Homo sapiens: one gene and its partner. The protein of the gene in region 2 purifies or fractionates together with the protein of the main gene of each other region. This does not show direct contact. Each region holds a gene or a part of one and is shown on either strand. Other genes may lie near its edges.

Evidence for each region. Proteins that work in one complex are often made in the same cells at the same time.
Region 1: the proteins of ZHX2 (region 2) and NFYA purify together in Homo sapiens (co-immunoprecipitation; one study listed by IntAct). This does not show direct contact.

What each region holds. Positions count from the first base shown.
Region 1 is NC_000006.12:41,075,960-41,079,614, forward strand, and holds part of NFYA (nuclear transcription factor Y subunit alpha), read left to right. Parts: intron 1-3,069; 5' UTR 3,070-3,130; coding exon 3,131-3,205; intron 3,206-3,655. UniProt on the Homo sapiens protein: Component of the sequence-specific heterotrimeric transcription factor (NF-Y) which specifically recognizes a 5'-CCAAT-3' box motif found in the promoters of its target genes.
Region 2 is NC_000008.11:122,970,019-122,973,673, forward strand, and holds part of ZHX2 (zinc fingers and homeoboxes protein 2), read left to right. Parts: intron 1-3,223; coding exon of another isoform or gene 3,224-3,250; 3' UTR 3,251-3,655. UniProt on the Homo sapiens protein: Acts as a transcriptional repressor. Represses the promoter activity of the CDC25C gene stimulated by NFYA.

The DNA of each region.
Region 1 (3,655 bases), on a different chromosome or scaffold from region 2:
GAAAGCTCCAATCCAGAAATCTGTAGGATGATGGGGAAGCTGGACAGCCCTTTGTTGTAGTCTAGTCTTTCATCAAGCGTCTATCAGGACCCACTTGTTGAGTTGTGAAAGAAATTGAGTGAGCCAATGCTGGGAATTTTTAAATAATAGAATAGAAAATATCTGCCAGGCATGATGATGGCTCACGACTGTAATCCCAGCACTTTGGGAAGCCGAAGTGGGAGAATCCTTTGAGCTCAGGAGTTTGAGACCAGCCTGGGTAGCATAGGGAGACCCCCTCTCTTAAAAGAAAAAAAAGAATAGAAAATACCAAAGTGCATCTTGTGTTGTATAAAGGTAAATGCTGTTTCATGAAACTTTCATTTCAGTTACATGCTTTATACATGTGTGCACTGAGTTGTGATAATGAAATGTGTTTCTTACTAAGGGTTGTGGTCAAAAAAGTTAAAAAGCTACTGTTCTAGGCTTTGCCTGGTAGTGATTATCAACTGTGATAATCCTATGGCTTTTCATATGCTTACACTAGTTGAGTTTCTGAAGAGGTTTTAGCTTTGGAGTTTGTGTAGGTCCACATAGAATGGGTTCCTAGTAAGTGGTTGGCTAAGTCTCAGCTTTTGCACCTTGGAATAGTGGGGCAAAGAGAATTGCACTGAGAAGAGAATGCACTAGGAAGAGAATTTTCATGCTAGCCAGAATAAACACTTATTATTTGTTTCTCTCTCTTTGAGGAAAAACCATTCAAAACTTTGTGTTAAGAGCAAGAGCTAGACAGACTAAATCTGGCTTAGTTTGTCATAATCTTGGGCAAAGAGGCACTTTGGGAAAGACTATCGAATTGTATTGCAGTCTTGCTAACTGAAGCTCACAGTAGTAGGAACATATGACTTTACTGAAGCCAGTTGCTTATAGCATTAACCATTAACAGTATCAATATCATGATACAGGCTAAATCACTCTGTCATTAATGTGAGAGAGAATTGCTGCTAGATTTGAAGCTGCTCTTCAAATCTTGATACTCTTCAAAGTATAAATTTAAATATTGCTAAATTGGTTCATTTGTATTACCAGAATAAACTAGTTAAGAAGAAAATCTGTACGTTACATATATTAGTCATTATGTGCTTCAAGTTATATTTAGTCTTGTAAAGATGTAAACTTCTGGATATTAGTCAAGGAAAAAATCTCATATAAGAAGGAAATTTGGAGTTGGGGAGGCGTTGAAACCTAAAAGACATTCCTTTCATGATCCTTATTTTTTAAAATCAATTTATTGAGAGATACTTTAGAAACAAAGTATAATAATTTTAAATGTGTATTTTGATGAGTTTTGACAAATTTGTACACCTGTGCAACTGCTACCACAATGAAGATATAAAACATTTTCATCACCCTACAATGTTCCTAAGGCTCCATGCCAGTCAACCTCCCTCTTTCCTGTCTCCCTGTATTCTCCACTCCCAAGGAACCACTGATCCATTTTCTGTCTCTAGATTACTGATGTCTTTTGGAGATTTTATATAAATGGAATCATATATATTCGTTTACATCATAACCTTAATTTTATTAGTTTATAGCCATAAATGTATTGTGTATTAGAGACAAGATAGAATTTAGGGAAGCCTGTTAGTGCCCCTAACAGACTCACAGTCTGGCTGAAAACCTGATTTTCTATTCTATACCCAGAATCTCTGAGGAGCAGACTTAGTCAACCAATTCCAAAGAGACTGGTGTAAAAATCAGAAAACCGGTTTGTCATGTTGCTGATTATATTTGCTCCCTGTTGGCCAATCTATATGTAAATCCAAATTATAGCTAGAAATTTACCTAGCGAGCATTCCATTAGATCAAGGGCAGTGCTTTGGAGAACCATATGGCCACAAGTCCTCTTGCTGTGATGACATAGCCTGTTATTTATGGCTCATAGATTCTTATGTTGTATCCATTTTGGTTATGAGTAATGGGGTTGATTAATTTTTATTTTGATTAAATTTTGTTATATTTTTCCTAACATTCCAACATTCATTTGGGAAATAAGAATTTCTCAAAATTCTTATTCTAGAAATAAGAATTTTCAAGTGTGCAGTGAAATCAAAGGAATTTGAAAATAAACACCTGTATACCTGCCAGTTAGGGTCTATTAACATCTTACTATAATTGCCTTACCAGATATTTCTCCACCCATTCATCCATTTTTTGATGCATTTCAAAGTAAATTTTAGATATCAATACACTTCTTTCTAAGTACTTGGACATATAGTTGCACATATTTTGGTTTCTTCTTTCACACTGTATTGAGACACCTTGCAAATGATTAATTCCACCAGCATGTGTGGATTTATGGAGAGTGGTACTGTACTTTGCCACGATAATGAGCAGCTCAGTTAGGTCACGTCATTTTATTATTCAGATGTTGGAATTTATGAGGGCCTAGTGAAAAATCAGAGAGAAAGACCTATCTACATTTTTGTTTATATATCTGTCCTCCCTCCCATATTTCCAAGATGAATTGCCGATTGCTAACTTATATCATTTTAATTTTTTAATGAAGTCTTTATTAAAGGTTCTCAGATATCATTCAGTTTATCTAATTGTATCCTTATTTTTAAAAGTGGATCTTCAACTCTTAAAGTCTATGAGAAGGGTAAATTTTGCCTACCATATGTAGTGGACCTGAGTAACATGTTTGGTGGGAAGCAATTACGTGTTACAACTTAAAGAAGCTTTATTCTCTAAAGTATATGTGCAAACCTGAAAATCAGTGTTAGGTATGCCTTGTATCAAAGTGATGTAGCTTAACGAGTATCTCTTAGGTGCAAGTATTGCTCTGACAGTATTGAAAGGTAAGGTTGCCAGTATACTGAAAGCATTTTAGAAACGTGAAAATAGCATTATGTTGTTATGATTGTGCCATGTAATCCCAGTTAAAAATGATACTGAATATAAGCATTTCCTATTCTCCTATCCTGTTTTCTTGCAAATAAAGTACAGTGATAAATTATCCAGGTTAATTGTCTGGTAAGGCCTTTATTGACAATCTCACTTTAGTTTCTTTCCCCACCTTTCTAACAGGAGTGTACCTCACAGCCTTCTAGGATCTCCAGAGTGGACAGGAATCTCACTTGGAGGGACCATGGAGCAGTATACAGCAAACAGCAATAGTTCGACAGAGCAGATTGTTGTCCAGGCAGGACAGATTCAGCAGCAGGTATGGAAGCAAAACTGCTTTAAACATTACAGCAATGAAACTGATAACAGCACCACTCAATTGGTTGGTCTATTGCCCTGGGGAATTATTTGAAAGATACCAGATCTTGTGAGATATTGGGTCTGATGGCTTGTGCTGAAATGCCATGTCTAGCCCATGACCACTTAGAATCTACTCTTCATGGGTGCCTGGTTATAGTAAATTGCCTCTTTTATCTCATTTTAAGTAAAAACATCTAGTCTGGTTTTCAGATGGAAATTTGGACTTTAAAATTTTTCTGGATTCTATTTGGTCTTTTTCTCTTCTTGTTTGAGCTAACTTGTGATTTAGTAAGTCTTTGGCCACAACAGACAAACCAACATAGCTTCCAATAAATCTTCTGTTTTTTGATTTGGTCTGCCACATTTTTTATTCAGAAAAGCTCTGGTTTAACATTAGGATAATATTTAG
Region 2 (3,655 bases):
TGTCCTGGGACGTGTTCACCGAGAGCCTGGACATCACGTGGTAGAAATGTCCCAGAGGCCATAAGGAAATGCCTGTCCGATGGCCTTGCAGCATCCTCCAGGGCTCTGAGAGGTACTCTAGGATGAGGCACTGGCCCTTTGCTGGGTGACTGTCTCTGACCAGGTAATAGGACTCTGAGAGAAGCCCAGGGGAGTTAGCAAGAGCCACACAGCCCAAAGCACTGCAATGCTCTATAGAACAGCAATCCTGAAATGTGGACTTTGTCACCACCCTTGGGTCACAGCCACTCCTCTGACAGCACTATGCTCACTTTCCATTTTCCATTCATTGACAAATGCCTGTTGAGTATGCTGCATGGGCCAGACTCCACAGGGAGCGGATGGGGGGGTCAGCCTGCTTGCTTTGCACCCTGTCTGTAACCCTGCCAGCAGCCCGTGGGCTCTGTGCAATGGAAGTGAGACTCTGGGAGGTTAAGTAACCAACCTCAGCACGTAGCCAGGAAGTGGCAGATCCTGGATCCCAGCTTTCTCCAACTCCACAGCTCTTTCCACCCCATCCTGCAGTCCTGTGCTGACCCAACGTTCTTTAGCCGGGTTGGGAGAAAGAACATCGGTAGCTGTCTTCCCGCCTTGGGCCTTGTCTCCTAGGATCTGGAAGTGTTCAGGGGGACATCCAATCAGTGGCAGCCTCCCTCCCAAAGGTGGTGGAAGTCCCCATTTGCTGGGGAAAACCCTGTTTCTTGGAAAGCACCGGCAGAGGCTGGCCGTGGGCTACTGTGCCAACCCAGGGAGTGCATGTGGCTCTGCCTGGGATCAGCAATAAGGCTCGTGGTCCTCACTGGGTGCCCCAGCCCCCTACCTTTGAAGCCACCATGCTCTCTTCAATTGCTACCTAGCTCTGTGCATGGAGAGGCTGTGCATGACCTGGACCCAAAATAGGTACAGGGAGGAGCAATTAAGAATCAGGAGGCTCTGAAGTTGGACTGGCCAAGGTGGAGTCGGGCTTCACCACTCACTGGTTACCTAATGTTAAGCACAACATTTAATCTCTCTAAGCCTCCATTTCTTCGCTATGAAGTGGGTCTGCCAATCACCTGCCAGTCACTGTAAGGAGTAGATGAGATGAGCCGTATTACCACTTAGCATGGGGCCTGGTGTGAGAAACTAGCTACTCTCACTGTTGGAGGGAGAGTCATGATCATTCTTGTTTTTGACCATGCCACTGAGCAGGTCCTGGCCTAAGAGAAAGCACTTTTCCTCCTGAGCTTCCTTTTTTTTTTTTTTTTCCTGGTGAAATGAGTGATCTTGACAACATCACCTATAAGGATCCCTGCAGTGTTTACAACTTGGTGACTCTGGCTGGATGACTTTTAGGTAGTCCAGATTCTAAGGTCACCCCTGGAATCTGGTTTTATCTGCAGACTTTTCTTTTATAAATTGGTTTCTTAACTCCAATATTCAATCTTACTCCCAGGAGCATCTAGGGAATGTGGGTGCGTTTAACATCCAGATGTTAGGCATGAATGGCATTATCGATGATCAGCTGATGCCTCTGGCTGAGAAGTCCACTCTCCTTGCTGTTGGCCCCTGTACAAAAAAAAAAAAAAAAAAAAATTCCTTCTCAGGGCTTTCTCAGCCAAACAGCCTTACCAGGAGGGAGGCAAAGAAAAGGCCAGTGGCTCCGAGAACCTACAGATCTGAAAAACTTCTAGCCTGTCATGGAATACTGGCTGTGTCCTCTAGAGACCTGAGCCTTGCTTGGATCCCTTTCCCAGGATCTCTAGATCTTGGGAGGAGACAAAAGTAATGATGGAGACCTGCCCCCATTTCCTCTACCTACCACAAAGTATTGCAAACTGGATGGCTCAAAACAATAGAAGTTTATTGTTTCACAGTTCTGCAGGCCAGAAGACAAAAATCAGGGAGTCTGTGATGGTTGCTTCCTTCTGAAGGCTGTGCAGGAGTCTGTTCTGTGCCCATCTCCCAGCTTCTGGTGTCTGCCGACAGTCTTTTGCATTCCTTAGCTTGTGGATGCATCAGCCCAATATCTGCCTCAATCATCGCATGGTCTCTTCCCTGTGTGTGAGTCTTCACATCTTCCCTCTATGCACATCTGTCTCTGTGTCCAAATTTCCCCCTTCTGTAAGGACACTAGTCATGTTGGATTAGAGTCCACCCTGATGGCCTCATTCTCACTTGATTTAACTGTGTTACCTCTCTAAAGGCATTTCTAATAGGGTAACATTCTGAAGTACTGAGAATCAGGACTTCAATATATACTTTTGGGGGGACACCATTCCACCTATAATAAGGTCCTTGGACTATTTTCATTACTTCCAAGGGTATAAGAATTAAACATTTCTTCCTACTGATTCTTAATAATTCTGTTTATTAAGTGCACGGACTCTAGAGATTACCTGGGTTTGAATCTTGGCTCTGCCACTTACTAGCTGTGTGATCTTGGGAAACTTATTAGGCCCCTATATGTTCAGTTTCCTCAACTGTAAAATAAGAATAATAATAATATTTACACCTCTTAGAATTCATATAAACATTAAATAAAAACACATTTACAATGCCTCATCTTATCACTCTTCTATATCCTACCACGTTTGGAAAAGGCTCCATCTAATAAAAACAGCAGAAGTATCTACAATACTTACCATGTGCCAGGCACTAGTCCAAATACTGTTGTGTACATCAACGCATGGCATCATCGCAGCAACTTTCTAAGGTGGGTGCTAGTGTCATCCCTGTTATACAGAAGCAAAAACTAAGCCCTAGAGTGATCAAGTCCTATAGGTACAGCCCTGCAGCCACTAAGGGGAGAAGTTAGGACCCAAATCCAGATTTGTCTGACTCCAGGGCCTTTTAGGAGCCACTGGGACTGGTTGACTTTCTAGGAATAATAAAAGGGTCTTGTAAGGATGAAAAGAATCACAGGCCACCACCTTCACTTGCCCAGAAAGTCACTCTGTTTTCAAAGGCCTGATTCTGGAGGCTTTTCCTATTATGGCGGACTGTGCTCAGAAAACACACTCGTTTCTTTACAACAGGCCCCGTACATGAAGGGCATGTGTCTCTCTTCCAAGCCCCAGGATGACTTTGGAAGGCCCCCACCCCAACCCAGGAGAGCCAGGAAGAAGCAAACCATGATGCCTTCCCCCCAGGGAACAATGGTCATTTGCCTGACATCTTGACTCTGTGGTTTTGTGTCTTCTAGGGAAGTCTGTTAGAACTGCTGTGCTGATCAACGGGACGCTCCGTCTTTGAAGAAAGAAGAGATGGTCTCTCCCCAGCCATGGGCCACCCTTGCCAGTGACTCCAAGTGGAACTACTTAGCTCGCGTGTGCCTGGAGGGTGCGGGAAGTCCAGCGACTCTCAGACGCACCTCCCAGAGGACCGGTGGGAATTGTTCATAGTGCCAAAGTCCTACTACTGCGTTTTCAATGGGTCCTTGTACATAGTTTGCTCCTCTGCCCTAGCCCTCACCTCTTGCTATACTGGAACCGATTTGTACAATGTGGGAATTTTGTTACCTTTTTAATCAAGGGCAACTTCCTTTTCCAGCACTACCATTGTAAGGTTTTTTTCAGGAGGGAGGGCTAACCACCTTGCTTTTCTCTTTTCTCTTTTTCTTTTTTTTATTTTTGTT